7 linked regions of the Homo sapiens genome follow. The protein of the gene in region 3 interacts with the protein of the main gene of each other region in a biochemical or structural test. Each region holds a gene or a part of one and is shown on either strand. Other genes may lie near its edges. The genes, in order: TGFBR1, GSK3B, SMAD3, ITCH, WWP2, PIN1 and RBL1.

Region 1 (4,423 bases), on a different chromosome or scaffold from region 3:
AATGCCATCAAACCAACTGGGTAGCCACCCTGATCCATTCCCTCTGCGGCACAATTAGACATTCTTTTTCCACATTAAAACCACTCTCCTGATTTTCAAGGCCCATAATTCTCTGAGCCCACCCTTTACACCATGAACTTCCATTTCTCCTCTTAGAAATCCTGAAACTTAGAATGCTCTTTCTCCACACATGCCATCCTCTCCAGCCAAGAAGTGCCTCCTTTCCACCACACATCCACTCAAAGCCCTATCCTCCTGCAAGGCAGAGAGATCAAGTCCTACCTCCTCTGTAAAGCAGTCCCTGTGGTTGCTAGTACTGAGTCTGTAGTCATATTTCCTCAGCATCAATTTTTTCAAAAGCAAGACTGCCTCTTACTTTTCCTATATTTCTCATCATGTTGATCACTACTAAATATTTGCTAAGAATAGATGAGCTATTTCCTCTGTAAACTGAAGCTCTTTCCTCTGTAAACTGAAGCTGTTTGTCAATTTAAACACTTTTATTAGCTTTCATAAACTGCTGAAATAGAATGATTAAAGAATGGTTTGTTGCTGTTTTTTTGTTTGTTTGTTTTTGTTGAGATGGAGTTTCACTCTGTCGCCCGGGCTGGAGTGCAGTGGCGCAATCTCGGCTCACTGCAAACTCCACCTCCTGAGTTCAAGTGATTCTCCTGCCTCAGCCTCCCAAGCAGCTGGGATTACAGGTGCCTGCCACTACGTCCAGCTAATTTTTTGTTATTTTTAGTAGAGACAGGGTTTCATCATGTTGGCCAGGCTGGTCTCGAACTCCTGACCTCGTGATTCGCCCACTTCGGCCTCCCAAAGTGCTGGGATTACAGGTGTGAGCTACTGTGCCCAGCCCAAGAATGGTTTTTTATACTCAAAAAAAAAAAAAAAAAAAAAAAAAAAAAAGCATGGGTGCAGGATATGCCAAATGTTAATAATGGCTGGTGATGGTTTTTTTCCTTTCTCTAATACAAATTTTCAGTCCTGTGCTTATGTAACTTTTAGAAGAAAAGAATTTGCTATGAATATATGTATAAATCAATACAAATAGTAAGTGATCAACTATCACTGGACTCGTCAGGAAGATTCAAATTACCTAAAAATATAATGTTAAAGAAAGACTGTTAGTATCTGAATGGCCTGCAGTTGCAAAGAAATAGTAAAACTGTAATCAAGGCAATCTGAAGCAAATTCTCATGGTTTGCAAAAAAGGGAAAGGAAACTTTCCTGCTGAAGTGGCTCTAACAATGTATTTACTCTATATGAAAGGAGCATGGACGTACGTGACCCCATCATAAGTAGAGGAGCATTTGTATAGGAAAAGAGTACATACCCTGGAGTGCTTAACTGAAGGCTCCACCTTTCATTAACAGCATAACTTCAGTTTCCTGGTCTATAAAATGGAAACAAAGAGGGTCTTCTTTCATAGATATGAACTAGGTTCCAATCTGAGCAAAATTGTGTCAATTCTGCCTGCCCAGGCAGATGGGGTTTATGGTAATACAAAATCATTTGAGTCTCAGTGGCTGAACTACTGTTAGTCTACATCTGTGCCATTCAAAGCAGTGTCTTTCTTTTATATATATATTTACGATTAGACGATGAAAAAATACTAACACCTTTGGATAATGTTTAGAGTTGAAAAGAATCTTGGGGTAGAGCCGATGTTATCAAAACCTACAGTTATCTTCTGAGCACTGGTCACCTGTATCTGGGAACAAATGGGCTTAAGAGTTTGGAAATTAAGCAGCAAATAAGTAAGAAGTTTTGGTACTCTATACAACTACCATTCAAGGTTGGTTATGAGAACTAAATGATGCCGTATTAGCCATGGTCAAAGAAAAAAAAAGAGAGAAGAGAGAATTAAACGAGACAAGACAGATAGAATATGTAGCATATTCTTGCAACCCTTCAAGAAATTTCAAAGCAACCTGTGTGTATACTTTGCAAGTCAATTTTTTTTAAGTTAGATTAGAAATTGTTCTTTGAGGGAGCAGCTTTATAAAAGACTTGATCTGATCTATAAAATTGGACCATAAAACCAACTGAACTTAGTCCACTAGTATTTAAGAAAGTGATGTCTGAGATGAATAATTACAAGTCTACCAACCAATTTTCTTCATGATGAAGAAGGGTAGCCATAAGAAACTTACCTGGAAAGCAAACAAAACACATAAAATTGGATCTAATTCAGAGTGGTAAACAATTTTAATGTTTATGGAGACTGCCTGGATTTGACATTGAGAAAATTCAGCTAAGAATGGCATTAAATGTAATCCTAAGTATTGGAGTTAGGCTGGGTCAAAACTGACCATAAATTCTGAGAAGACTCCAAAACTTTTCCTCAAGCTAGTTCTATGGGACAAAGCATTAAAAAATCCCTGAGAAATATGCCAGCATCTGCCCTCAATTCCAAAAGCAGGAAGCAAAGATGTGACCCAATCACATGATATCAAACCACAGTCCATCTGTTCAGAGAACTCTGTGTTACGTAAGCCATGACCAAGGAAGAACTGCAAAAGGCAAGAGGTGTGTCGACATTTGCAAGGGGCTCTGTGGTTTGAAGAGACACGTTCTCACATCAGAAGGGCCATCCATAGGATAATGGCATTTTCAAAATTCCATTTATTACACATGAACATATTTGGTGCAATAAAATGACACTACAAGAATGGTGTTGAGTCCCTGTAACTGCTCAACTAAGGCCTAGAACCTTTTGACAGGGGTCTTCCCTACATGAGCGGCCCTCCTCACAGGAACAAGATTTATCTTCCTCTTGATTATTTTTATGTCAATTCCTCTCTTAATTTCAACAACAAAGCGGATCATCTAATATTCTAAACCAAAGCCTTCTAACTACACCCCAATTCAATTAACTGTACTTACTCAAGACCATCTTCCAAACTACTATAGGCCTACTTTTCTCAATCAATAAGTATATACCAGGTCCTTTTATCAGCAATTAAAAAAAAATTGACCTTTTCCTTGAGAACTTTAAGGCTTTAATCATTCCCCCTCCCTTCCACCTTTAGAATTCACTTTTCATAAATTCTGTGAAGTTCAAGGCCTACTTCACTTAAGGAAGTCACTCATCCCTTCGTGGATGCCAACCACCTATCCCAACCCTGTCCCACTCCCACCTCCAAGTCCTTCACATTTTAAAGCACCATATAGGGCACAAGATATGGAATCAGAAAATCAAAGTTCCTGTCTCTGTTCTGCCCCTGTGCCACCCTAAGAAATTCACCTGAGTCGTTTTTTCATCTGTAAATTGAAGTGATAATATACTTAGGACTTCCACCATTTGAATGCCTAGTCCTACTGGGCATCCCATAATGTTATTCTCCCTCACTCATTCCACTTTGATTACTTTTATGTTTTGTTTCCAGCTATGTACTATAGCTTTTAGGATTGGGGAAAAAATGATAGAGGTTAATACATCCAAATTCCACAGTACAGAATAAGGAACCTAACTCTGAAGAGTAACTTGCCAGTCAGTCAGTAAAAGCCTTGTTTCCTCCCTTGGAGTAGGCCCCAGGACAGTTGGGGACACAACTTCAAAAGAACTTTCACACTCATCAAATCCCCCTCTGAATTCTACCCACCCTTCAAAGTCAGTGTAAGTCCTAAAGTGTCCAAGAAGCCTCCCCCAATCATTCCAGCTTACACTAATCATTTCCCTTTTTGAATACTAATGCCTCCCTATAGAAATGATATTAAAAATATTTAACAACTGGCACTACAAGGGTACCAACCAATCAGAAAGGATGTTTAACCAAAACACACATGGCCCAGTGGGAACTGCTTATTGAACATCAGTCCTGCTCTTTAGCAACAACACAGAATAGCAACCTCAAACTCAAATACCACTTTCTCATGTGATCTTCACAATCTCATGAATTAGGCAAAAGTAGGTATTGCCCCATTTTCTGCATAACTGCTGGTGAAGGTAGGACAAATAACCAATTGCTTTCAACACGCCATACAACTTTTCCTGATTATTTATACGGAATTACAAGTTAATATTGCATAAACTGGACTTACATAAAACAGTATAAATATTAAAGGAATGCTCAAATAGAAATCAACAAGCATTTATGTGGAATAGAATATAAAACACAGTGCTAAGTTCTGAGGCCACAAAAGAAAGAAATGGCATGAATCTTGTCCTCTGGGTACCTATAACGCATTCAAGTAGAGTTAAGTAGCAGCACAGGCAGTAGAAATGGACAACACAAACTGTTAAGTGTTGCAGAGTTCTGGAAGACAAAGAATTCAAGAACTAAACCAGCACAGGAAGTCAGGGCTGAGAACTTCTCGCACTCCCAAAAAAAGGGGCAAAACTAAATGTGTAGTGAAAAGGCTGAACAGTCAGGAGTCAGTGAGAAAGAGAAATTGCTCGAAGGTCTGCAGTAAT
Region 2 (4,423 bases), on a different chromosome or scaffold from region 3:
TATACTAGAGGTATAATCAGTGGCTCCAAAGATCAACTCTGGTGCCCTATAGTACCGAGAACAGATATACGAAACATTGGGTTCTCCTCGGACCAGCTGCTTTGCACTAACAGAAAAAAAATAAAAATAAAAAGCAGAAATTCTTTAAATCTAAACCTTAAAGAACTTAGACTGCTATCCTTTCACAGTATCAAATGATTTTATAAGATTCACATCATTTGAATCATATATGAAAAAGAAAATGTAAACTGTAACTATCTCTAATAAAAGAAATTTACAATTTTATCACCTTGCTCTGCAAAAAAGAATAGCAATTTTTAAAGAAAGCGTTTGTCACCTAAGAAGGCACCAAAAGCAAAAAAGGATAAGTGTTGAATTTCTTCTGATCCTCTGTTCCCCAAATTCCACCTCTAAAATACAAAGAAGCAAGGGCAGAAAAGAGGTACCTCCCCCACCAAAAAGCATGACAATGGATTCTAAGAATGAATACTCCTCACCCAATGTATTTCTTTAAAAAGGGTGAGAAACTGGCCACTGTCTTGCATTTTGACTTCTGACTCACGGCGAATATTTCAAGGCTTATAGACTCAATCTATTTTTCCATATCTTGGTCAATTTATTAACCACATAAACATTTATTACCCAATAAATTATAAACAGGCCCTTCAACTTCAGGGCAGAAATGATTCACTGCCTATAAATTCTAACTCTGCTATAGTAAGTATAATTGCATGTTTTCTTATTCCAATTTTCCTACTAAAATACTTCATTGCATGTATTTTAAATATGAAGTATAATAAATTACAATTAATTTCTTTTGAGATGTCGCCCAAGATAATCCAAAGACAGAATAAAATAAACTGCTGTAGAAGCCAGCCATTCTGACATACATTAATAATAAAGATAAATAAAGGGACAAAATGCAACAAAATCAAAACAGTAAAACAGTAAGTGCCAAAAAAAAAAAGTAAAGGTACTGGAAAACCAGGGTAAAGACAGATGAAAGTAGTCACAAGGATTTCAATGACTGGGATTTCTTTTCTTCCATTTATTTCTAGTCAATGATGACTCTAACCTTAACTTCTTTTTCCTTCATCACTAGTTTTGAAGTTTGTTTTTTAACCCTCTCCCCAAGTACTGACATACAATAACCATTTCATAAATTAATAAATACTAATCCCTGTTTTTAGGCTGCATGAAAATTATGACATTTAGTTTTCAGCATAATTGATAGGAGACTGTTATATCTTCTAAAGGATGCTTTTTAATTAACAAGATAGATGCTAATTATGTTCAGAAAATTCATTACGAGACAAAACGTTAATACCCAAGCTTTGTAGCCTGAAGTTTTTTCACTACCTGATGGAGCTACAAAAACGGAGCAGCCTCTCTTACAGAGGAGACTGGTTTTAACTACTTCCCAATATTGTGATCACATCTAGCTTTTTGTTCCTAAATAGCCCAACTAGTTCTTTAGCTACTTTTTGGCCCCTTTTCATCTAGTAAAAAAATAAGAAGAAAGTAATAGTATTTTGTTCAAATTACCAATCTGATAATGTACAGTCCAAAGTGTTTCCCAAACTCCATCTGACCAAACCAATTTTGTTAAAAACAAAAAAATCAGAGGGTTTATAAAAATGAGCTATCAAACAAGCGAAATCCCTCTTCCAAATTTATCAGAATAAAGCTATTTTATGTCCCAAGAGAATGGGCTGTACCAAGTGTTTTGACACTATATGAGAACAGAAGCTCTTCTAACCTTGGTGTCTCAGTCTGTCCCTACCAAGTCAGTCACTCTCAATGGTGAAGACACCCCATTAACAATAAAACATATCTGATTTGGGCAGTTTTTCCTATAGACAAGTAGTAGTGCTTTGTTTCAAACACCAGGTAAGAGTTTTACTATCTTTCACCCTTTTTAAAAATAGTTCAGGGAACAGAGTCATGGCCTGCAAAGTGATAGGTCATCTGAAATTAGAAAACAGTAAAATGAGGACAGTCTGAAAGAGGACACATTGTGAGACTAAGAAAAATTAACTCATGACAGAACAGATTTACTTATTTTTTAAAGGATCTGTCTCAAGAGAAGCCTGTGGAAAACATATCCTATGTTAAACCCCAAATTTAAACTGTGAATTGATGTAAAAGTATTACAAAGGGATAGGAACACAGGTATTAACAAGTGTGGGGCAATATGTTATCTATAGAGCTATGGTGAAAAGAATCTGTAACAAGGGTGAAAAAATTAAATTGGAGAGAATCCAAATTATGTAAAGATGTCTTAGGGACCATGAGGAGAGAGATTAGGTGATTACACCAGTGAGGAAGTAGCGGGGTAACTGCCTGAGTTACATGGGAATGTAGGCTTGACTACATGTTAAAAGGTTAGATCAGAGAGGCACAAAGTACTGAAAACTGAAAATGGAAAGAATAAAGTTGTATTACAAATTCACAGTATATTACCAAGAAATGAGCTTTTAAAAGCAGAAAGTTTGATGAAATTTGCAGGAAAAAGGGTGGAATAAAAGGTTAAATTATAGAGGAAAATGAAGAAAACACTGCATTGTTTTTTATCTCATCCCTGAATTGAGGTTAATTGTGAAGTTAAAAAGATACACAGGAATGTATAATAATCAATATTTTGAAAAAATTTAGTTCTTACTGAAAAAGGAGTATATATACCTAATGTAAATTCAAACAATACTAAAATACAATCAATGAAAAAGTGAGTTTCCCAACTACATTATATTCCCAAAGATCCTTTCTCAGGCAATCAAATATTATGGATTACGTACCATTTCAGAAATAAGCCACACATGTACTTGTGTATATATGTGTGTGTGTACATATATATATATATAGTCACATTCTGTATGTTTTTAAAACATAAAAGGTGGCATACAATACATATACTCTTGATCTTGCTTTCTTCATTTAATGTTTCCTAGACATCATTCCCTTTCAGTTCACAGAGAGTTGCCTCATTCTTTTTCATGGTTGCATGTATTACTCTGCATGTACCGTAATTTATTTAGCCATTTTCCTACTAATGGATGCTTATAAACAATGCTATAATAAAAATCCCTATATATACACTGTATTGTAAATATGTATTCCTAAGGAAATAATTCCTAAAAGTTAAACTGTTAAATGAAGGAGTATATACATTTATAATTTTGACAGAAACTAACAAAACTACTCTCACAGCTGCACTAGTTTATACTTCTTGAATAAGAATTACTGTGTTTAGGCTGATATTGCAAAAGGAATATATTTAAAAGAAGATAGTAGGGGGAGGAGGGGAAAAGGGAAGGGGCAGGGAGAGGGACAGTAGCTTACCTTCCAAAGTCACAGAGTTTTAATACAGCAGTATCAGGATCCAACAAGAGGTTCTGCGGTTTAATATCCCGATGGCAGATTCCAAAGGAATGGATATAGGCTAAACTTCGGAACAGCTGATACATATACAACTGGAATAGATAGTAGAAATTAATTAAATACTTCCTATTCTAAACAAATCAGAATCCTTAAGCAGTCAATAAAGTAACAGATTCTCAGAAAAGAACAGGTGAAATGCTATGGATTACTGGCACTCAATCTTCCTTTCACAAGTTTTGTGTCACTTCTGTATTAATTAGCTATTTCTATATGAATTAGCTAAACTGTCATTAACCATATGTACTATTCGCTTCATTCTTTAATAACTCAAAAGAAGAAAATTTTACAATGTGCTTTATAACTTTTAATTTTACTAACATCTCACATTACAAGCCTGCTAAGATGGGCTTTTATTTAAAACACAAATGAAAAGCTCAGAGAGGCACCCCAAATCATGAATAATCAGTAACTTTGGGCCAGAAACCAGGTCTCCTGATTTTTAAGTTTATAGTTCTTTCTAGTAGAGCATGCTGCTGAATGTAAACGTATTTCCAAAGTGTGATCTTTAGAATATTCTTCTGAGATGTCAGCCTCCAAGGTGATTGATACAGTGGTCTAGGAAAACTCATGTGGACTGAGAAAATCTGTAATCACTGCTCTATCAAGACATCAATAACCCTGTTAGTAGCATCACCATTCTTCCTGTTAATATCCTTCAGAAAAAGTATAATTCAAAATGACATTCAAAAACAGATGCCTGACTATTGACATCATCTTTCAAAAGAGAAGACTTTCTCAGTTTTCTTACCAAAAAGATACACTGAGAAACTGGGTCTGCATGGAGTAAAGAATCAGACTCTTGACTGGAGGAGAGAGAAACTTCATGGACGAAGAGAGTATAATTTAAACCTTCTGTTTATCTCAAGGTCAGTGTTCTGATTCACTTTTAAACTTTTCTGGCTGTTTACCTTCTGACCTCTACCCCAAAGTTACACCATGGACAGAATTTTTGAAATGAGTCAAACCAAAGATAATAAATATCTTG
Region 3 (3,500 bases):
CTCAGGAGGCTGAGGCAGGAGAATCACTTGAACCTGGGAGGGGGAGGTTGCAGTGAGCCAAGATTGTGCCACTGCACTCCAGCCTGGGCGACAGAGCAAGACTCCGTTTCAAATCATCATCATCATCATCATCATCATCATCATCATCATCATCACAGAAACCTACAATTACACACAATGAAAGTGTCCTGAACGAAAATAACAAGGAACCCCAAGAGTGTATGACCATGGCACCCCACTTTGCTGAAGGACTGGACAGGGCATCTCAGAGGAGGTGATGGTTGACCTGAAGGCCTAAAGGGTAAGTAAGAACTAACCAGGCAAAGGGGTGCGGGAGAAGGGCAGTACAAGCAGAGGGAAAGGCACACACAAAGGCCCTGTGGAAAGTGGAAAACATGGTGAGGTCGGAAGAACAGAATGAAGGCCAGAAGGACTGGAGAGGGGATCATGAGAGAGAGCTGGCTTGAGACGAGGCCGGGGAGGCAGGCAGGGGTACTCTGCAGGGCCCCAAAGGCCATGATAAAGGCTTCTCCTGTTTTCTAAAAGCAGTATGTAGCCTCTGAGATGTGTAAGTGGGCTGTGCATACGTGTGAAAGAGACAGGCCCTGTGGAACTCTGGCTACGTGTGACCAACAGATTGCGGGTAGCAGGGATAGAAGTGGGGAGCAGATGAGATGGATGCTCATGAGTCACAGGTACCCTATTAAGAGGCAGGACTGCTTTTTCTTCAAGGAGGCCCATCCTAGGACCCTGCCAGTCAGTGCCATAATTTTTCTAATAGCTGGCAGGGCTGGCAGTGAGACATTTGCAAGCTTTCCCTCTGTGCCTTCTTATGACCGAGGGCACCCATTTGCCTGAATACAGAGAATTCATGGGCACTCTGTGAAGGAAGGGCTGGCCAGATGCCACCAACAGCACCAACCAAAGAGAGAAACAGAGGGATCCAATCACACTCTCCAAGCCACTGGCCTGGGAAGGGGAAAGGACAGACAAAGGTCATAGCTGGGCTTGGTCACAGGAACTGACCTGGAGCTGCTGACTAAGGGCATCTTGAAGGATGTAATTACCTTCCTCCCTTGGGGCCCCAGAACAAGGAAGCCCTACAGCTGAAAAACAGTAATTACCAGGCAGATCGAGAAGACAGCCTGGGACTCGTCCCTGAGGTATAAAAGGAGGACTGGCGGATGTGGAGCCATAAGACCTGGGGTAAAGGAGGGTTCTACTCTCCTAGCTGGGAGACACTGGGCAGCTCATGAGCTTCCTAGGACACTCAGTTTTCTCATCTATAAAATGGGGTATTCTGCCCCCCGACCTCCTGAAGCTTGGTTTCCATTTGAAAGTGCTTCATAAACACCCACAAATTAGCGTTATTATTCTCTATCACAGCAGATACTCCCCAAACCCAGCCCTGGATAAGTAGGGTGAGCTGGAGGTTGAACAGGAGTAAAAGGGAGAGTGGGAAGTGGTGAGTGGGAATAGAGAATTATTCAGCTGTTCTCCTTCTCCTGCAAAGCCACTGGGTGCCCACAGATTAGGGAAGTGGCCGTATTTGCTCTTCGGTGTTTGACAAAACTCCCAAAAAAGGGCCAGCTGGACATCATAGCCTCCTCTGCAAGAGAAGGCCTTGGAGAAAAGCTCATGCCAGCAGCGGGGGAGAATGGGGCTGTGGAGGTAAGCTCCATCTAGGTGATAGAAGTGGGTGGCCCTCTTGCCTTAGTAGTAATATTAATCATACATGAATCACTTGGATATTAATTAAACTTTTAAAAACAAGGGAGCTACAATAATCAAGGCAGTATGGTAATGGCACAAGGACTGACAAACGGATCAATGGAACCTAACAGAGTCCAGAAATAGTTACATATATATGGACGACTGGCTTCAACAAAGGTCCAAAGACAATTTAGTGGAGCAAGGACAGTCTTCAACAAATGGTGATGTAACAACTGGATATGTAAAAAAGATAATCTTCAAACTACACATTGTAACCCTATACAAAAACAAACTGAAGTGAAACTTAAACTCTAAAATGTCTAGAAGAAAACAGGAGAAAATCTTTGTGACTTTTTGGGATAGACAATGATTTCTCAGATACCACACCAAAAAGCACTTAATAATAATAAAAAAAAAATCAGACCGCATCAAGATTTAAGCCTCTGGTCTTTGAAAGACACTGTTAAAGGAATAAAAAGGCAAGCACTAACTAAGAGAAAATATTTGCAAAGCGTATATTTGATAATAGACCTGTTTCTAGAACTCTGAAAACTCAATATTAACAATTCAATCTTCTTTTTTTTTTTTTTTTTTTTTTTTTTTTTTTTTTTTTTTTTTGAGATGGAGTCTCGCTCTGTCGCCCAGGCTGGAGTGCAGTGGCACAACCTTGGCTTACTGCAAGCTCCACCTCCTGGGGTCACGCCATTCTCCTGCCTCAGCCTCCCGAGCAACTGGGACTACAGGCGCCTGGCACCGCGCCCGGCTAATTTTTCGTATTTTTAGTAGAGACGGGGTTTCATGTGTTAACCAGGATGGTCTCGAACTCCTGACCTCGTGATCCGCCTGCCTCGGCCTCCCAAAGTACTGGGATTACAGGCGTGAGCCACTGCGCCCAGCCAACAATTCAATCTTTTAAAAAAGAGATACATGATTTGAACAGACACTACCCAGAAAGATATGAAGACAACAAGCATATGAAAAGATGCTTGACAATGTTGATCATTAGAGAAGCACAAATTAAAACTACAATGAGATAGGACTACATACTTATTAGAATGGCTACAATTAAAAAGCCTGATCATGCCATGTATTGGCAAGGATGTGGAACAACTGGAACTCCCTTCCACTGCTGGTGCAAATGTAAAATGGTACAACTATTTTGGAAAACAGCTTGGAAGTTCCTTTCTAAAATATTTTATTTTGGGGGATACACAGTAGCTATACATATTTATAGGGTACTTGCGATATTTTGATACAAGCATACAATGTGTAATGATCAAATCTGGGTAATTGGGATATTCATCCCTCAAACATTTGGAAGTTTCTTAAAAAGCTAAAAAACCATAAGCCTACCATATGATCCACCATTCCACTTCAAAGTATTTACCCAAGAGAAATAAAAGCCTATGTCCAAAGACTTGTGCATGAATGTAATAGCCCCAAATTGAAAACTACTCCACATGTATTAACAGATGAATGAGCCATAACATATCCATACAAAGAAATACAACTCAGTAACAAAAAAGGATCAACTACTGATACATGCAACGCTATGAATGAATCTAAATTAATGATGCTGCGTGAAAGAAGCCAGGCATGATTCTGTTCGTGTAAAATTATAAGGTAATTTAAACTAAAGTAAAAGGCACACTAATCTTAATCTAGTGACAGAAAGCAGGGATCAGTCATTGCCTGGGGACAGAGGGAGTTACAGGGAGGGAGTAGGGATTGGAGGGAGCAATTACCAAGGTGCACTTGGAAACTTTTTTGGGGGTAAAGGTTATGTA
Region 4 (4,423 bases), on a different chromosome or scaffold from region 3:
TTTTTCTTTCTATAGTGATGGGGTCTCACTATGCTGCCCAGGCTGGTCTCAAACTCCTGGCCTCAAGCGCCCATCCTACCTTGTCCCCCCAAAGTGCTAGGATTTCAGGCATCAGCCACTGTGCCCAGCCCCGGCAGCAACTAACAACGTAAAGTTCCTCACCAACACTTGATATTATCTGCTAATTTAATAACTAAAACAGTACCTTTTCAGGGTATATTTCCTTCAGATTACTAACAAGGTTAAGTATTTTTCCATGTTTGTTACTGACTTTCCTCTGGATTAAAAAATATTTTTTCTTCAATTATTTTATATGATTTTTTTTTTTTGACGGAGTCTTGATCTGTCGCCAGGCTGGAGTACAGTGGCACAATCTCAGCTCACTGCACCTCCACCTCCCAGGTTCAAGTCATTCTCCTGCCTCAGCCTCCGGAGTAGCTGGGACTACAGGCGCGCCACAACACCCAGCTAATTTTTGTATTTTTAGTAGAGACGGGGTTTCAACATGTTGGCTAGGATGGTCTCGATCTCTTGACCTCATGATCCCCCCACCTCAGCCTCCCAAGGTGCTGGGATTACAGGCGCGAGCCACCGTGCCTGGACTGTAATGTTAATGTTAATGTTAAAGGCTTAACACCATGTATTAATATATCCTTAACTTCCCCAATTAATTTGAAATGATTTTGCTATTATAGTTTTTTAAATATAATAAGAACTTCATTTTAATATATGACTGGGCTCTAATTCTTATTCATTTAAATAATTACTCTTGAAGAAACTAATACTTAAACTACAGTATTAGTAAACAGGTAAACAGCTTAGACAAGAAAAGTTAAGGAAATTTTTTTTTTTTTTTTGAGACAGAGTCTTGCTCTGTCGCCCAGGCTGGAGTGCAGTGGCGAGATCTCGGCTCACTGCAAGCTCCGCCTCCTGGGTTCATGCCATTCTCCTGCCTCAGCCTCCCAAGTAGCTGGGACTATAGGTGCCCGCCACCATGCCTGGCTTTTTTTTTTTTGTATTTTTAGTAGAAACGGGGTTTCACCACGTTAGCCAGGATGGTCTCAATCTCCTGAGCTCGTGATCCTCCCACCTCGCCCTCCCAAAGTGCTGGGATTACAGGCGTGAGCCACTGCGCCCAGCCCACCTAAGGAATCTTTAGGTCAGAAATGAGTGAAAATAGGGCCAGGCATGATAGCTCACGCCTGTAATCCCAGCACTTTGGGAGGCCAACGCGGGAGGATGGCTTGAGCTCAGGAGTTAAAAACCAGCCTGGGCGACATAGCGAGATGTTGTTTCTATAAAATAAAGAAAAGAAGAAAGAAATATGCGTGAAAACAAAAATTGTTTATCAGGCTCTGAATTAATCAGTTGTCTAGCTCTCTTCTTTTTAATTTGTACTTACCACAAAACAAAGTGGACAGAGAAAGGGCTGACAAGAAAAAGTAAAACAGAAATGTAGGGAAGATTATACAGTTGTAATCCACAATTCTGACTAAATAAAATTATTCTTTTTAAATTTAGATACTTACCCAGGAGGTAGAGGTTCTGGTCTATCCCATGTTGTTCTTTTCTCAACATGATCTACATAGTAAACTCGCCCGTGCTGGTCCACTCTCTGCTCCCAACTTAAATACAAAATTAAAAGGCTGGTAAAATACTTGCATGAGTTACCTGGCTTTTTAATCCTGTCTTTGCATTTCCATTAAATGACCATTATTGAACTAAGGCAAATAAGGACATCAGTTTAGAAAGATGATACAAATACAATTTAGGAATAAAGTGAAGAAATGTAATCTTCAGGCAGTGGCACACAGTGAATTCAATTTCTTCTATGCAAGTATCTGCTCTAGGAGAAAACATATTCCTGAAGAGGCTTGAGGTCCGTCTACCTAGGATACCGAAGTCACTCTCAATCAGGGTATAATCAGGATTTGAGTGGAAAGAAATGGCCAGGCGCAGTGGCTCTCACCTGTAATCCCAACACTTTGGGAGGCTGAGACGGGTGGATTACTTGAGGTCAGGAGTTCAAGACCAGCCTGGCCAACATGGTGAAACCCCGTTTCTACTGAAAATTCAAAAATTAGCTGGGCATGATGGTGGGCACCTGTAGTCCCAACTACTCAGGAGGCTGAGGCAGGAGAATCACTTTAACCTGGGAGGCAGTGGTTGCAGTAAGCCAAGATTGCATCATTGCACTCCAGCCTGGACAATAGAGTGAGACTCCATCTCAAAAAAAAAAAATTAGCTGGGCATGGTGGCAGGTACCTGTAATCCCAGCTACTCAGGATGCTAAGGCAAGAGAATCACTTGAACCCGGAAGACGGAGGTTACAGAGAGCTAAGATCCCACCACTGCACTACAGCTTGGGCAACAGAGCAAGATTTCATCTCAAACAAACAAACAAAAAATAAACAAGAAAAAATTACACCTGAGTATCTTAAAAACAATCTATGAAAATAATCTTAAAATAATCAGGAGAGATTAAAATGGGATTATGAGCACAAATTTTCTCAGTTTTCTGAATTATCTATCACTTTGCTATGATTTTTCTTTTTTCCCCAAGATGGAGTTTTGCTCTTGTTGCCCAGGCTGGAGTGCAGTGGCAAGATCTTGGCTCAATGCAACCTCTGCCTCCCAGGTTCAAGCAATTCTCCTGCCTCAGCCTCCCGAGTAGCTGGGATTACAGGCGCCTGCCACCACACCCAGCTAATTTTTTGTATTTTTAGTAGAGATGGGGTTTCAGCATGTTGGCCAGGCTGGTCTCGAACTCCTGACCTCAGGTGATCAGCCCGCCTCGGCCTCCCAAAATGCTGGTATTACAGGCGTGAGCCACCATGCCCAGCCTATAATGATCTTCTGATGAAAAAAATAGTTTGATATTAAAAAGGGATTTTTTCCCCCTTAAAGAAAAAGGCAATTGGAATTAGGTGATTATTTTATTAATTGGCCTTGGTTAACTTTCAGGGTCCTTTGATGAAAAAATATATTTTTCCACTTTGCCCTGAAGATTTCAAATATGGTGTGTTTTCCTTGTTCATTTTGACTCCAGATCCCCCAAAATCAGTTACAATAACATAAAAACAGTTGGCTGGGTGCTCATGCCTGTAATCCCAGCACTTTCAGAGGTTGAGGTGGTCGGATCACTTGAGGTCAGGAGTTCGAGACCAGCCTGGCCAACATGGTGAAATCCCCTACTAAAAATACAAAAATTAGCCGGGCTTGGTAGTGCACACCTGTAATCCTAGCTACTAGGGAGGCTAAGGCAGGAGAATTACTTGAACCCAGGGGGCGGAGGTCGCAGTGAGCCAAGATCACACCACTGCACTCCAGTCTGGGAGACAGAGCACTCCATCTCAAAAAAAAAAGAAATTAAAAAACAGTCATCAAAACAATGGAGTTTACTGTTGTTTACTGTTATTTTCCTTATTAATAAGTAGGCTTATGAAGAATCCTAAAGACAACATATGTTAATTTAAAAAGTTACTCACCCAGGTGGCAAGGGAGCTTGAGTTACAGGATTTAATGGCCTAGGGCCTGAGCCTCCAGATATAGTAAGAGGAATTATTAATCCAGATGTTGCTCCTTCAGATGTATTTGTATTTGTATTTGTCGGCGGCAGAGAGCCTGTACTAGACCCATCACTTTCAGAAGTGGCAGATGGTGAACCATTGACAGATGCTATAAAAGATTTGGGGAAAATAGGAAAAGAATCTTTCATTTTCTAAAATTCAGGATAGAATTTTAACTGTAAAAAATAAAAGGCAGATGATAAATATAAAACTTAAGATGTAGATGCACAGGTGAAAATTACTTAAAGAAATAAGTAATGGGAAATAACCAACGCTGCCAGTTAATAGGCTTGTTTACTTTTTCGGTCCTGTCTACCCCTATGTCCCATTACTAATCACGAAGCATGTACAGGTTCTCTGATCTTCTGATGTCACTGGAAATAAAAACTTTTAGAATAGGAAATTATTAATATTCCTTGGTATTTTAAGTTCATTTATTAATTTTCCAGCTCCTTAAAACTGCTTTCCTGTGAAACCGTGCAGATTACAGACCAATTTTTGATGTTGGTTATAATATGGAAGGTCTGATAAGAAATAACATTCTTACAGATAGTTAGTAGTCATACATTACACCTTTAAGAAATACTTGTGGACAAAACAATGTCTAGAGGAAGTCACCAAGATTATAATAAAGACATCTTAAAGACTCAGAATATACAATTAATCAAATTATCTATAAAAGGGGAAGATGTGGCTGCAGTGGCTTACGCCCGTAACTCCCACACTTTGGGAGGCCGAGGCAGAAGGATCACTTTCAGCTCAGGAGCTCCAGACCAGCCTGCGCAACATGGCAAAACTCCATCTCTACAAAAAATATAAATATTTAGCCAGGCATTGGTGGCTCATGACTGTGG
Region 5 (4,423 bases), on a different chromosome or scaffold from region 3:
TTTCAATATAATCCATGGGTTCACAAAGATTTTATTTCTAATTAACCAGCTGTAGAAACAGGCAGAGCTTATTTCTAACTAGAGATAAACCTTGCACCCACTTCTATTTTTTTTTTTTTTTTTTTTTTGAGATGGAGTCTTGCTCTGTCACCCAGGCTGGAGTGAGTGGTGCAATCTCGGCTCACTGCAAACCTCCACCTCCCGGGTTCAAGCAATTCTCTTGCCTCAGCCTTCCGAGTAGCGGGGATTACAGGTGCCTGTCACCACGCCTGACTAGTTTTTTGTATTTTTAGTAGAGATGGGTTTCATCACGTTAGCCAGGATGGTCTCGATCTCCTGACCTCATGATCCACCCGCCTTGGCCTCCCAAAGTGCTGGGATTACAGGCGTGAGCCACTGCGCCCAGCCTGCACTCATTTCTTGAAAGATATGCAAGGAAAAGCTCTGTCCAAAAGATTCTCCTGTTCTTCACAGGCTCATGCTACTCCAACACTAATGCTTCTTTCTTGGCCTCCTTCCTCTGTCCAGCATTGAGTTACTACCTTCCATTCTCCAAAGGCCCATATTGAAAAACAATCAAACAGAATCAACTTTGCCAAATGACATCCTTACAAAGACTAAGCACGGAAAAAGAGAAAACGGGAGGGAGCAGGGAGGTACACTATTGGAAGCCCCGTGGAATTACAGGCTAAGAATAAAAGAGGCTGACTGGAAAGCAGATCTGAAGACAAAACAAGAAGCAAAAGGCATGGGTGACTTGAGGAAGAGGACGGGCCCTAGGTCAGGACTGCCATGTCTTGGTACTTGTTATTTTTTATTTATTTAATTATTTTTGAGAAGGAGTTTCGCTCTTGTTGCCCAGGCTAGAGGGCAGTGATGCAATCTCGGCTCACTGCAACCTCCGCCTCCTGGGTTCAAGCGATTCTCCTGCCTCAGGCTCCCAAGTAGCTGGGATTACAGGTGTCTGCCACCACGCCTAGCTAATTTTTTGTATTTTTAGTAGAGACGGGGTTTCTCCATGTTGGCCAGGCTGGTCTTAAACTCCTGACTTCAGGTGATCTACCCACCTCGGCCTCCTAAAGTGCTGGGATTATAGGTGTGAGCCACCATGCCTGGCTGGTATTTTCCTAATAGTTATTATTAGTAGTAATGATTTAAATCACTGAATATTTGCTATAAACTGCGGTGGGGTGAAAAACAGGGAACTGCAACCTTCTAAAAAGATTTTGGTTAGAATCTAACCTGTCCCATCATCCAGGGGAAACATCTTCCCTTTTGTTCCCATCTTTCAGAAATTCCAGAGCCCTAGCCAGTTGTGGTGGCTCACACCTGTAACCCCAAACACTTTGGGAGGCTGAGGCAGGAGGATCACTTGAGCCCGGAGTTCAAGACCAGTCTGAGTAACATAGTGGGACCCCATCTCTACAAAAAAGTTAAAAATTAGCTAGGCATGGTGGCACATGCCTATAGTCTCAGCTACTTGGAAGGCTAAGATGGGAGGATCACTTGAGCTCAAAAGGTTGAGGCTGCAGTGAGCCATGATCATGCCACTGTACTTCAGCCTGGGTGACAGAATGAGACCTTGTCTCAAAAGCAAAACAAATAAAGAAGAAAGAAAAGAAATTTCAGAGTCCATAATGTGGAGTCCTAATAAGATAAGTAAGCAACAACGAGGAAGGGGCCTCAGGTAGGGGAAAGCCATGGACAGTCGTTCTGAGAAATGATTAATCACAAACAGCCCTCAGATGCATCAATCCCCACATAGCCCCCTCCAGCACAACCCTGTAAAACTTCCCTCCATCTCCTGCCTCTTTGCAGACAGCCCCTTCTCTGCTGTGCTGCCCATTGCTTTCTTGCAACGTGTTTTCACTTTAATAAATCTGCCTTTCTTTACCTGGTAAATTCCCTTTCTGCCTGTGACACATAATAGTCCTAAGGGACTCAAAGTCGCTCAAAAGCAACTCACTGATTTGATTCCAAAGGGAGTTTATGTTTATATAGCCACTCCACCCATCTCACTAATGATAAGTGGTAGAAGGACCAGATGTGGACTCTGAAGACCAAGATTCAAATGGCCATCTCTTTCATTTCTTAGCTATCTGACCTCGTGAGGGTCACTTCACCTCAACAAGGTTAAATGTATAAAATGGTGGGATGCCTGACAAACAACATGCATTCAATACATGTTTGAAAAAACCAATACATATTTCAAACATAAAAAGCCCATTATCCATCCATCCTGGAGGCCTAAACTGGATGCCAACCCAGGAAGCCAGACTAATTCCAGAAATTGGCACTCAAATTGATTTCAGGGGTGCTATAAAGATGCACAGTTGGAAGAGTAGCCTCATTAAGAAAAAAGAAACCCATTAGCTTGTGGTTTTCAAAAAGATTAAAAAAAAAAAAAACAAAACCCCTATTCCAGTACTTTGGGAGGCCGAGGCAGGCAGATCACTTGAGGTCAGGATTTTGAGGCTAGCCTGACCAACCTGGTGAAACCCCATCTCTACTAAAAATACAAAAATTAGTTGGACATAGTGGCAGATGCCTGTAATCCCAGCTACTCAGGAGGCTGAGGCAGGAGAGTCACTTGAACCTGGGAGGTGAAGGTTGCAGTGAGCCAAGATCGTACCATTGCACTCCAGCCTGGGCAACAGAACAACACTCCAAAAATAATAAAGTAAAATATAGGATCCCTAGAAAAGCCTCTCTCTGAAGGTGATGGTTGAGTAAAGATCTGAGGAAGTGAGGGAAGGAAGGGGCCATGTGGCTGAATAGGGGCTTAAGGGTCCAGGCAGAGTTCAAAAGCCCCAAATAAGGAGTACCACTGGCAGGTTTTGGGACCAGTCAGGAGGCCAGTGTGGCTGGAGGGGATTGAGTAAGCAGGAGTGGAGAGAGGAGGTCAGGGTGGTGGTGGGTGTGGGAGGAGAGATCAGGTCATGGAAGGCTTGCAGGCCATTGTAGGGTATTGGTTTTCACTCCAGTTAAGCTGGGACAATTGGAGGGTTTGAGTTGGGCAGTGGAGTGGACAGGATCCACCCTGCCTTTTAACAGACTTGCCCTGGGTCCTGTGTGGAGAAAGTGAAGGCCAGCCAGGGTGGAAGAGGGAGACAAGTTAGGAGGCTGTTGCCATCATCCAGGGGAAAGATGCATCCAGGGTGTACTCTGAAGTACAGCCAGTAGGCTTTGTGGACGAGCTGAGTTGGATGTGGGGTGTGAGAGGAAGAGACGAGTCAAGGGTGACTCCAAGGTCTTTGGCTTGAACAACTGGAGGAATGGAGTTGTCATTAACTGAGATGGGGAAGGCTGTCTGAGGGGCAGGTGTAGGGCTCAATTTTGTTGATGTTGATTATAAAATGCCTGATAGGAATCCACGTGAAGATATTGTGGGCAATTAGATCTAGAAGTCTCGAGACAGGCCTAGGCTAGACACACATATGGAAGCTGTTAGCATGTGGATAGTATTTAGAGTTAAGAGACTGAGCCAGGTGCAATGGTTCATGCCTGTAATCTCAGCACTTTCGGAGGCTGAGGCAGGAGGATGTCTTGAGGCCAAGTGTTCAAGACCAGCCTGGGCAAAAGTGAGAACCCCCGCCCCCAACTCCCCATCTCTCCAAAAGCAAGACGGAGTCTCACTTCATCACCTAGGCTGGAGTGCAGTGGCGCGATCTTGGTTCACTGCAACCTCCATCTCCCGAGCTCAAGCAATTCTCGTGCCTCAGCCTCCCGAGTAGCTGGAATTAGACACATGTGCCAACAAGCCCAGCTAATTTTTGTATTTTGGGTAGAGATGGGGTTTCACCATGTTGGTCAGGCTGGTCTTGAAATCCTGACCTCAAGTGATCCGCCCGTCTCAGCCTCCAAAAGTTCTGGAATTACAGGCGTGAGCCACCGCACCTGGCCAGGATCCTATTTAAACTGCAACCTACATCCCTCTTCCCTGCTTTATTACAACATAATACATATTATACTTAGTTATCAATGTGCCCTTCTCTAATAAAATTGAAGATCCACAAGGGTGGGGATCCTTACCTTTCTTGTACTGCTATATTCCTGGCATTCAGAACAGGTTTGTCCAATAGAAATAAGATGGGAGCCACAAGTGCAAGCCACATTTATAATTTTTTATTTTTCTAGGAAATACATTTTAAAAAGAAAAAAGTGCTGGGTTTCAAGTCAAGGTTAAGTGGGAAAAAAAAAGACAAAAAGGTGAAACTTTTTTTCTTTTTCTTTTTCTTTTTTTTGAGACAGGGTCTCACTCTGTCACCTAGGCTAGAGTGCAATGAGTGGCACGATCACAACTCACTGCAGCCTCCACCTCCCCAGGCTTGGGTGATCCTCCCACCTCAGCCTCCTGAGTAGCCAGGCGGGCGCCACTGCACCTGGCTAATTTTTGTATTTTTTGTAGAGACAGGGTTTCACC
Region 6 (4,423 bases), on a different chromosome or scaffold from region 3:
ACCACACAGCTGGCACTGAAATCCAGCCCTGTACGAGCCCAGGGTGGGCCACGCTGTTCTGCCCTGACCCTCCCCCAGACATCCCACCCTTGCCCACCTAATCCATCACCCAGTCCTCTCTATCCTGCCTCCTGAATCTCTCTCGGGTCTGCTCCCTCTCACTTCTTCTTCCACTTCCAGCCCCCAAGTTCAAGTCACACCGCCTCTTGCTCCAATTCCTCCCACAGCTTCCACCAGGTGGGCAGGCAAGGCTCCTGCTGACATTCCAGAATCTGCAGGTACCTACGGTGACGCCTCAGGGCCTGGCTACTTACCAGGTGCACCTGTCCAACCCAGAGATGGGCGAGACACCCTCGCCCACCACACCCAGACCCATGCCCTCCTCACTATCCCCACCGACCTCAGCCTTCTGCCAGCTCTCATCAGGATTGCTTGGAGCAGCTCTGTCCTGCGCCTGGCTGCTCTGCTGACCCCCAGGAGCCCACTTCATGCCGCTCCATCCCCAAATGCCTGCACCCTCCTGCTCACTCTTATAGGGTCCGGAAGCCTCAGAACAGAGACCACTAGAGCTGGGAGGACCTGAAGGGTCATCTTGCAATTCTCTCCTGGCTTCTCCCTCCACTTCTTCTTCTTGCTCTGGGGCAACCAGAACCCCTGAAGGTTCTGGGCCTTCCACTTCCCTGGCCCTTGACATTCTAGCTTCACAGATCTCTGCTGAAAGCAGAGCACTGTGGGTTCCTCTCCTGGTCCCACATGGCCACATATGTCCTGCTGCCTCCAGGAAAGAACCAAACCTCCTCACCTGACAAGGACCCTCCTCAACCTGGCTGGGACCTGCCCGTGAAGGGTCTCATCACCCCCTAGCTCCCTGCAAAGCCTTCCCCAGAGTTCTGGCTACATCCTAGTCCTAGGCCTTTACTTCTGCCCCGTCCTGTGCCAGGAATCCTTCTTGCTTCCTACTGGCTCATGAAACAAGGCTGTGAGGGCTGACTCTGGGCCAGGCTTTGTGTGGCAGGATGGGAATACAGGGGAAAGAGAGAGATCCAGTCCCTGCCCTCAGAGGTCAGGAGGCTGGCTCTTCAATCAGCCTTCAAGATTCTGTGCAAGAACTCGGCTTCTCTCTGCCATGCTTACATATAAGACTAACGGGTGGCACTTACTGTCCTAGATGCCATGTTGGGGGTGTGCATATGTAATAACATCCTACAGGCCAACTGGACCAAGTGATGAGAGAGTAAAACAACAGCCAATACTGACCGAGTGTACACTCTGTGCTGGGCCCTGTGCTACCACAACCAACAACAGCAATGACAGTGACCACTAACAATGACAGAACATTTACCGATGCCAGGAGCTGTTACTCCCGCTTTACTGTATTAGCCAGGAGTCCTCACAACTACCCTGTGAAGTGGGTCTTATTATTCTAATACTAATTTTATAAATGAAAAAGACTGACAGCTGGGGGCGGTGGTTCATGCTTGTCATCCCAACACTTCGGGAGGCTGAGGTGGAAGGATCACTTGAGGCCAGGAGTTTGAGACCATCCTAGGCAACATGGTGAAGTCCTGTCTCTACTAAAAATACAAAAATCAGCCAGGTGTGGTGTTATGAGCCTGCAGTCCCAGCTACTTGGGAGGCTGAGGTGGGAGGATCACCTGATCCCAAGGAGGTTGAGGCTGCAGTGAGCTATGAACACTGCACTCCAGCCTGGGTGACAGAGCAAGACCCTGTCTCAAAAGAAGAAGGAGAAAAAGATTGAAGCCCAGAGATGTTAAGTAACTTGCTCAAGAGCACATAGCCAGGACGTGGCAGAGCTGCATAGCAACCCAGGCTGTCTGGGCATGGTTGAGAGATGGGTTGTTTGGAGTAGGGACAGCCCAGGTTTGGGGACTCTGAGAAAGGCATCAGACACAACTTACTGCAAGAATGGAAAAGTGTTTTTTTTTGTTTTTGTTTTTGTTTTTTTGAGACGGAGTCTCGCTCTGTTGCCGAGGCTGGAGTGCAGTGGCACGATCTCAGCTCACTGCAAGCTCCACCTCCCGGGTTCATGCCATTCTCCTGCCTATCTCCCGAGTAGCTGGGACTACAGGTGCCCGCCACCATGCCAGACTAATTTTTTTGGATTTTCAGTAAAGACAGGGTTTCACCGTGTTAGCCAGGATGGTCTCGATCTCCTGACTTCGTGATCCACCCACCTTGGCCTCCCAAAGTGCTGGAATTACAGACGTGAGCCACCGCGCCCGGCCAAGAATGTAAATGTTTTATATTCCCGCTGTCAAAGATGGCAGCCACCAGCTAAAGTATGACCAGTGCAATTGAGAAACCAATTTTTGATATTATCTTATTTATTTTTGAGACAGGGTCTTGCTCTGTCACCCAGGCTGGAGTGCGGTAGTGTGATCTCGGCTCATTACAACCTCTGCCTCCTGGGCTCAAAGGATCCTCCCACCTCAGTCTTCTAAGTAGCTGACACTACAGGCGTGCACCACCATGTCCAGCTAATTTTTTTATTTTTTTAGAGACGGGGTTTTGCTATGTTGCCCAAGCTGGTCTCAAACTCCTGGGCTCAAGTGATCCTCCCGCACAGGGTGGGAGTGGCAGCCAAACTGGACAGCTTTAGACAGGGCTCTGCAAATGATGGCCTGCAGGCCAAATCCTCCCAGATTTTGTAAATAGTAAAGTTTTCTTGGCACACAGCCATGACCATGTGCTTGCTTACATATTAGTTATGAGTGCTATCCAGTTACAAAGCAGAGCTGATAGAGACTGCATGGCCCACAAAACCTAAAATATTTACCATCTGGCCTTTAAAGTTTGCCACCTTGGTGCCAGACTGCAGAGGAAACACAGAACAGAGCAGGGAATAGCTTCCTCCCTTAGGTCAGAATTAACTCACTATCTACTGGCACTCACTACCTCTTTTTTTTTTTTTTTTTTGAGATGGTGCCTCACTTTGCTGCCCAGGCTGGAGTGGAGTGGTGCGATCTCGGCTCACTGCAACCTCTGCCTCCCTGCCTCAGCCTCCCGAGTAGCTGGGATTACAGGCATGCGTCAACACATCTGGCTAATCTTTGTATTTTTAGTAGAGATGGAGTTTCACCATACTGCCCAGGCTAATCTTGAACTCCTGACCTCAGGTGATCTGCCCTCCAAGGCCTCCCAAAGTGCTGGGATTACAGGCGTGAGCCACCGCACCCTGCATGCACTCACTACCTTCCTGACTGCTCTCTCTGGATCCACCTATGTTTATGACTCAGGCCCCTAGTGGATGATATTACTATTGACAACACTTCCCACAGACTGAGGGCCTACTGTGCAAAATCCATTGCCTTATTCCCTTGAACCTTCACAATGGTCCTTAGAGGATGCCCATTTTACAGAGAAAGCTGAGTCTAGGGGAGGTGACACGAGTCCCCTCCCAAAGGTCACAGAGTTCACAGAGGCACAGCTACTACCTGAACCCATGTCTGCCAGCCCCCAGGCTGGGTCCTCTGCCCCTACCTGGCTCACCCTCAAATGCCAGATGGAAAAGAAAGAGAATGGCTGCTGTGAAGGTCAGGGTCAGGTCATGCACTGGCGTTTTTGTGTTGGCCAACACCACGCCTGGCAGCTGAGCAAGCTGGGGTGAAGGGTCTGATGTGACTTCTACAAAGGCTCACCTGGGAGAAGACCCCCTCCCAAGCCCCTGCCCTCGCCCTGCTCACCGTTGATCAGCTCCAGGGCCTCCTCCTTGGTCCGGGTGATCTTCTCCTGCCGCCAGGACGAGGGCCGCCGTGACTGGCTGTGCTTCACCAGCAGGTGCGAGCAGCGGACCCTGGCAGGCTCCCCCTGCCCGTTTTTGCCACCACTGCTGCTGTTGCCGCTGGGCCGCTCCCACTGGCTGGCGTTAGTGATGTGGTTGAAGTAGTACACTCGGCCTGGAGGGGAGGGCAGGCAGGAATTCAGCTAGGGTTGTGCTCCCAGGACACCCCTGGGCCCACAGCCAGAAGCCAGGGTGAGGGCCTGGCTTGCAGGGGGCGCCTTCATTCAACAAATCCATGGTGTATCCACCATGTGCCACAGGCTCTCCAGACGTGGGCCAATGTGGCAGGATACAGTCCCTGCCCTTAGAGAGCTAACATTCTAGGTGAGAGCAGACAGGTGCTAAACAAGCAAATGAAACACAGGATAGTATCAATCCCTGATAACTTCAAGGAGGAAAATAACCCAGAGTGATGGAACAGAGGAAGCTGGGGGACAGGGAGTGACTCAAACCATGCACTCAGCAGCCAGGCCACCTGGATTCAAATCTGAATCTGGGTTCAAATGTGATATATCTTCCCTGGGCCTTGGTGTTCTCACCTGCAAAATGGAGATAACAGTTCCTACCTTAGGGTCATTGAAAGGACTAAATAATAATTTTTAAACATTTTTAAAAGGGCTA
Region 7 (4,423 bases), on a different chromosome or scaffold from region 3:
TGAGACGGAGTCTCACTGTGTCACCTAGGCTGGAGTGCAATGGCGCAATCTCGGCTCGCTATAAGCGCCGCCTCCTGGGTTCACGCCATACTCCCACCTCAGCCTCTCGAGTAGCTGGGACTACAGGCGCCCACCTGGCTAATTTTGTTTTTGTATTTTTAGTAGAGATGAGGTTTCACTGTGTTAGCCAGGATGGTCTCGATCTCCTGACCTTGTGATCCACCCGGCTTGGTCTCCCAAAGTGCTGGGACTACAGGCGTGAGCCACCGCGCCCAGCCTTGTTTTTTTAATTTGAAATGGAGTCTTGCTCTGTCGCCCAGGCTGGAGTGCAGTGGCGCTATCTCAGCTCACTGCAACCTCCACCTCCAAGGTTCAAGTGATTCTCCTGCCATGTACTGCTCTACATTTGTTTTGTTATAATTCTTTTTTGTTTAGTTCCCCCAGAATCTGTCATTACAAAGATTTTTGAAATTATATGAACAATGACAAACATTGACAGAAAAAGATCAGATTGTTTTATACTAACAATGATAATGTCTTGCTCAATTAAAAAATTAACCCCATTGATCTTCATTTAATTTTTATCATCTTATTTTATTTTTAGAACCAAAGTTGTTTAAAAACATTTTTTTTAGGCTGGACACGGTGGCTTACGTCTATAGTCCCAGCACTTAGGGAGGCCGAGGCGGGTGGATCACCTGAGGTCAGGAGTTTGAAACCATCCTGGCCAACATGGTGAAACCCTCTCCCTATTAAAAATATAAAAAATTAGCCAGGCGTGGTGGCGGGCGCCTGTAATCCCAGCTACTGGGGAGGCTGAGATCAGGCCATTGCACTCCAGCCGGGGCAACAAGAGCAAAACTCCGTCTCAAAAAATAAAAATAAAAAAAAATTTAAATTTAGCATCAACTAAAACCTATTTGCCATTTCTGAATAGGGCTTTAAACTTTGCTCCTCTTCTATTCTGGAAACACAGGAATAGCAAATAGACAATGACCACAAATAGTTTTGTCCCAGAAACAAAGAATATTAGCATGAATCCAAACTGGATAGCTAAATTTGTTTTGTTTCCTATCCAGCCAAATAATTCTATATGCTTGATACTAGAGTAAGTAAAAGATGTATCTGAGACCCATAGAGTAGCTGCAAGGTGAAAAAAATTAATATACAGTAGAGAAATAGGACAACATCTTGACCAGATGACAAAAATTAACATCACCAATGAGATGCAGATGGATAACACATGCCATCATCAGATGTGATATCCTCAGGAGACAAAATCACTTATACAGTTTTCCATCAGGGAATGACTAACCTGCATCTAATCAAAAGTTAATAGGAGACAAATCCAAAATTGGGAACCATCTATTAAAAGAGGGGATGAGGGTGGGCACAGTGGCTCACGCCTGTAATCCCAGCACTTTGGGAGGCTGAGGCAGGCGGATCACAAGGTCAGGAGTTTGAGACCAGCCTGGCTAATATGGTGAATCCACATCTCTACGAAAAATACAAAAATTAGCTGGGCGTGGTGGCACATGCCTGTAGTCCCAGCTACTCAGGAGGCTGAGGCAGGAGAATCGCTTGAACCCGGGAGGCGGAGGTTGCAACGAGTCCAGATTGCACCACTGCACTCCACCTGGGCAACAGAGTGAGACTCTGTCCCAAAAAAAAAAAAGGCTGAGGCAAGAGGACCACTTAAGGTCAGGACTTTGAGACAAGCTTGAGCAACATAGTAAGACCCTGTCTCTATAAAAAGATTTAAAAATATCAGTCAGGCATGGTGGCACATGATTGTAGTCTCAGCTACTTGGGAGGCTGAAGCAGGAGGATCATTTGAGCTGAGGAGTTTGAGGCTGCAGTGAGCTAAAAAGGTGCCACTGCACTCGAGGCCTGGGCAATACAGCAAGACTCGGCCTCTAAAAAAATTTTTTTTAATTAAAGAAAGGGACAAAGTGATTGTGGATTATATTCTTCAAAAATGGTAATGTCATAAAAGAAAAAGAAAGGCTGTGGAAATGTTCCTAATTACAGAAGAATAAATAGACATGATAAGCAAATGCAATACCTGATCCTTAATTAGAAATTGTACTTCCAGGAAAAAAAATGCCATAAAGAACATTATTGAATCAACTAACAAAACTAGAACAGAGTTAGCAGGTTAAATAAAATTATTTTATCAGTGTTAATTTTGCTGAAGTTGGTAGCTGTACTGTAGTTATTTAAAGAAATACACAGTGAAGTATTTTGGGGTAAAAGGCTACAAATGTATGCTACTTAGACTGAAATGGTTGAGGATAAAAAGAGAAAGATCTGGCTGGGAGTGCTGGCTCACGCCTGTAATCCCAGCATTTAGGGAGGCTGAGGCGGGTGGATCACCTGAGGTCGGGAGTTCGAGACCAGCCTGACCAAACATGGAGTAACTCCGTCTCTACTAAAAATACAAAATTAGCCAGGCGTGGTGGCACATGCCTGTAATCCCAGCTACTCGGGAGGCTGAGGCAGGAGAATCGCTTGAACCCAGGAGGCAGAGGTTGTGGTGAGCTGAGATTGCACCACTGCACTCTAGCCTGGGCAACAAGAGCAAAACTCCATCTCAAAAAAAAAAAAAAAAGAGAGAGAGAGAAAGATCTATATATTGAAGAAAGAAAAATCAAATGAGAAAGCAAATGGGATAAAATGTCAATAACAGGTGACTCTGAGTCAAGGGTATATGGGTATTGTCCTTTTCTTATTTTTGTAACTTCTCTGTAAGCCTAAAATTATTTCCAAATTTTAAAAAATTAATTTTAAAAAGTATAGCTAAAGATTCAACACAGAGGTTTCTAGCAGAATTTGAGAAAGGCAGAGAAAGAATATGAAAATTGGGAAAGGATTATCTATGTTATAACTTAGAATTAAATGAAGTCACACAGTGGCTCACGTCTATAATCCCATAGCACTTTGGGAGGTTGAGGTGGGTAGATCATTTGAGGTCAGGAGTTCGAGAACAGCCTGACCAACATGATGAAACCCCATCTCTACTAAAAAAAAAAAATACAAAAAATTAGCCGGGCTTGGTGGTGTGTGTCTGTAATCCCAGATACTCAGGAGGCTGAGGCATGAGAATCACTTGAACCCAGGAGGCAGAGATTGCAGTAAGCCAAGACTGTGCCACTGCACTCCAGCCTGGCTGGCACAGTGAGACTGCGTCTCAAAAATAAATAAATAAATAAATAAATAAAATAAAAATTAAATGAAGTCAAATGATCTCAAAACAAGAGAAAACTGATTCCAAAATTTAGAGCTTATATAACATTTAAAAACATCAAAGAGGTTTACCTTAATTTAGCTGAACGTAGTATTCTGGTAAGTGAAACACAGTTGCCTTCCATGATACCCTTTCCAACCGTGGGAATAATGCTTTTGCGGCATGCAACATATAATGAACATGCCAACCAGTGTGTAACTTCTCCCTGGCAAGCAAAAGACAAACAGCAAAACAGGTATAATATTATGTTAAAATGCTTTAATTCTAGAAACAAGAGATGTAGAATTATCTGGTCTCAATTTTCCTTATGTAGATAAAGGGCCAGAGAAGTGAAGATATTTGCCCAAGGTCACAAAGCTGTTAGTTGCAGTAATGGGTATAAAACTCCTTACTCTTAGTTCTGTGTTTTTACAACTATAACATGCTAAATTAATATTAATCTAAAGATAAAAGCCTGGCTTGGTGGCTCATGTTTGTAATCCCAGTAACTCGGGAGGCTGAGGTGCGAGTATCACTTGATGCCAGGAGTTTAAGACTAGCCAGGGCAACGTAGACTCTAAAAATGAAAATAAAAAAATTAGCCAGGCATGGTGGTGCTTGCCTGCAGTCCCAGCTACTTGGGTGGCTGAGGCAAGAGTATCGCTTAAGCTCAGGAGTTCAAGACTGCAGTGAGCTATGTTTGTGCCACTACATTCCAACATAGGCAGCTGAGCGAGATCCTGTCTCTTAAATCCTGTCTCTTAAAAAAAAAAAAAAGAAAAAAACTCTTTCACCTACACTCCAAATCTAATACAGGCATATGCCACATAACATCTTGGTCAACACTGGACCACATATACAATGGTGGTCACTTAAGATTATAATACTTGCCAGGCGCGGTGGCTCATGCCTGGGAGGCTGGAGCGGGTGAATCACTTGAGGCCAGGGGTTCAAGACCAGCCTGGCCAACATGGCAAAACTCCGTCTCTACTAAAAATGCAAAAAATTAGCTGGGTGTGGTGGCATGCACCTGTAGTCCCACCTACTTGGGAGGCTGAGGCAGGAGAATAGCTTAAACTCGGGAGGCAGAGGTTGCAGTGAGTAGAGATCGTGCCACTACAGTCTAGCCTGGGCAACACAGGGACACTCTGTCACACACACAAAAAAGATTGTAATACTGTATGTTCTAACTGTTCT

What was found.
Region 1: the proteins of SMAD3 (region 3) and TGFBR1 form a complex in vitro, tested with the Homo sapiens proteins (2 studies listed by BioGRID, with this or other methods).
Region 2: the proteins of SMAD3 (region 3) and GSK3B form a complex in vitro, tested with the Homo sapiens proteins (one study listed by BioGRID).
Region 4: the proteins of SMAD3 (region 3) and ITCH form a complex in vitro, tested with the Homo sapiens proteins (2 studies listed by BioGRID and IntAct, with this or other methods).
Region 5: of the proteins of SMAD3 (region 3) and WWP2, one has a biochemical effect on the other in vitro, tested with the Homo sapiens proteins (2 studies listed by BioGRID).
Region 6: the proteins of SMAD3 (region 3) and PIN1 form a complex in vitro, tested with the Homo sapiens proteins (2 studies listed by BioGRID, with this or other methods).
Region 7: the proteins of SMAD3 (region 3) and RBL1 form a complex in vitro, tested with the Homo sapiens proteins (one study listed by BioGRID).

What each region holds. Positions count from the first base shown.
Region 1 is NC_000009.12:99,107,785-99,112,207, reverse strand, and holds part of TGFBR1 (TGF-beta receptor type-1 isoform 1 precursor), read right to left. Parts: intron 1,400-4,423; exon of another isoform or gene 1,340-1,399; intron 882-1,339; exon of another isoform or gene 1-881. UniProt on the Homo sapiens protein: Transmembrane serine/threonine kinase forming with the TGF-beta type II serine/threonine kinase receptor, TGFBR2, the non-promiscuous receptor for the TGF-beta cytokines TGFB1, TGFB2 and TGFB3.
Region 2 is NC_000003.12:119,912,705-119,917,127, forward strand, and holds part of GSK3B (glycogen synthase kinase-3 beta), read right to left. Parts: intron 3,471-4,423; coding exon 3,340-3,470; intron 107-3,339; coding exon 1-106. UniProt on the Homo sapiens protein: Constitutively active protein kinase that acts as a negative regulator in the hormonal control of glucose homeostasis, Wnt signaling and regulation of transcription factors and microtubules, by phosphorylating and inactivating glycogen synthase (GYS1 or GYS2), EIF2B, CTNNB1/beta-catenin, APC, AXIN1, DPYSL2/CRMP2, JUN, NFATC1/NFATC, MAPT/TAU and MACF1.
Region 3 is NC_000015.10:67,159,602-67,163,101, reverse strand, and holds part of SMAD3 (mothers against decapentaplegic homolog 3), read right to left. Parts: intron 1-3,500. UniProt on the Homo sapiens protein: Receptor-regulated SMAD (R-SMAD) that is an intracellular signal transducer and transcriptional modulator activated by TGF-beta (transforming growth factor) and activin type 1 receptor kinases.
Region 4 is NC_000020.11:34,439,410-34,443,832, reverse strand, and holds part of ITCH (E3 ubiquitin-protein ligase Itchy homolog), read right to left. Parts: intron 3,679-4,423; coding exon 3,489-3,678; intron 1,626-3,488; coding exon 1,530-1,625; intron 1-1,529. UniProt on the Homo sapiens protein: Acts as an Acts as an E3 ubiquitin-protein ligase which accepts ubiquitin from an E2 ubiquitin-conjugating enzyme in the form of a thioester and then directly transfers the ubiquitin to targeted substrates.
Region 5 is NC_000016.10:69,765,022-69,769,444, reverse strand, and holds part of WWP2 (NEDD4-like E3 ubiquitin-protein ligase WWP2), read right to left. Parts: intron 1-4,423. UniProt on the Homo sapiens protein: E3 ubiquitin-protein ligase which accepts ubiquitin from an E2 ubiquitin-conjugating enzyme in the form of a thioester and then directly transfers the ubiquitin to targeted substrates.
Region 6 is NC_000019.10:9,837,930-9,842,352, reverse strand, and holds part of PIN1 (peptidyl-prolyl cis-trans isomerase NIMA-interacting 1), read right to left. Parts: intron 4,342-4,423; coding exon of another isoform or gene 4,278-4,341; intron 3,918-4,277; coding exon 3,705-3,917; intron 1-3,704. UniProt on the Homo sapiens protein: Peptidyl-prolyl cis/trans isomerase (PPIase) that binds to and isomerizes specific phosphorylated Ser/Thr-Pro (pSer/Thr-Pro) motifs.
Region 7 is NC_000020.11:37,085,671-37,090,093, forward strand, and holds part of RBL1 (retinoblastoma-like protein 1), read right to left. Parts: intron 3,453-4,423; coding exon 3,319-3,452; intron 1-3,318. UniProt on the Homo sapiens protein: Key regulator of entry into cell division. Directly involved in heterochromatin formation by maintaining overall chromatin structure and, in particular, that of constitutive heterochromatin by stabilizing histone methylation.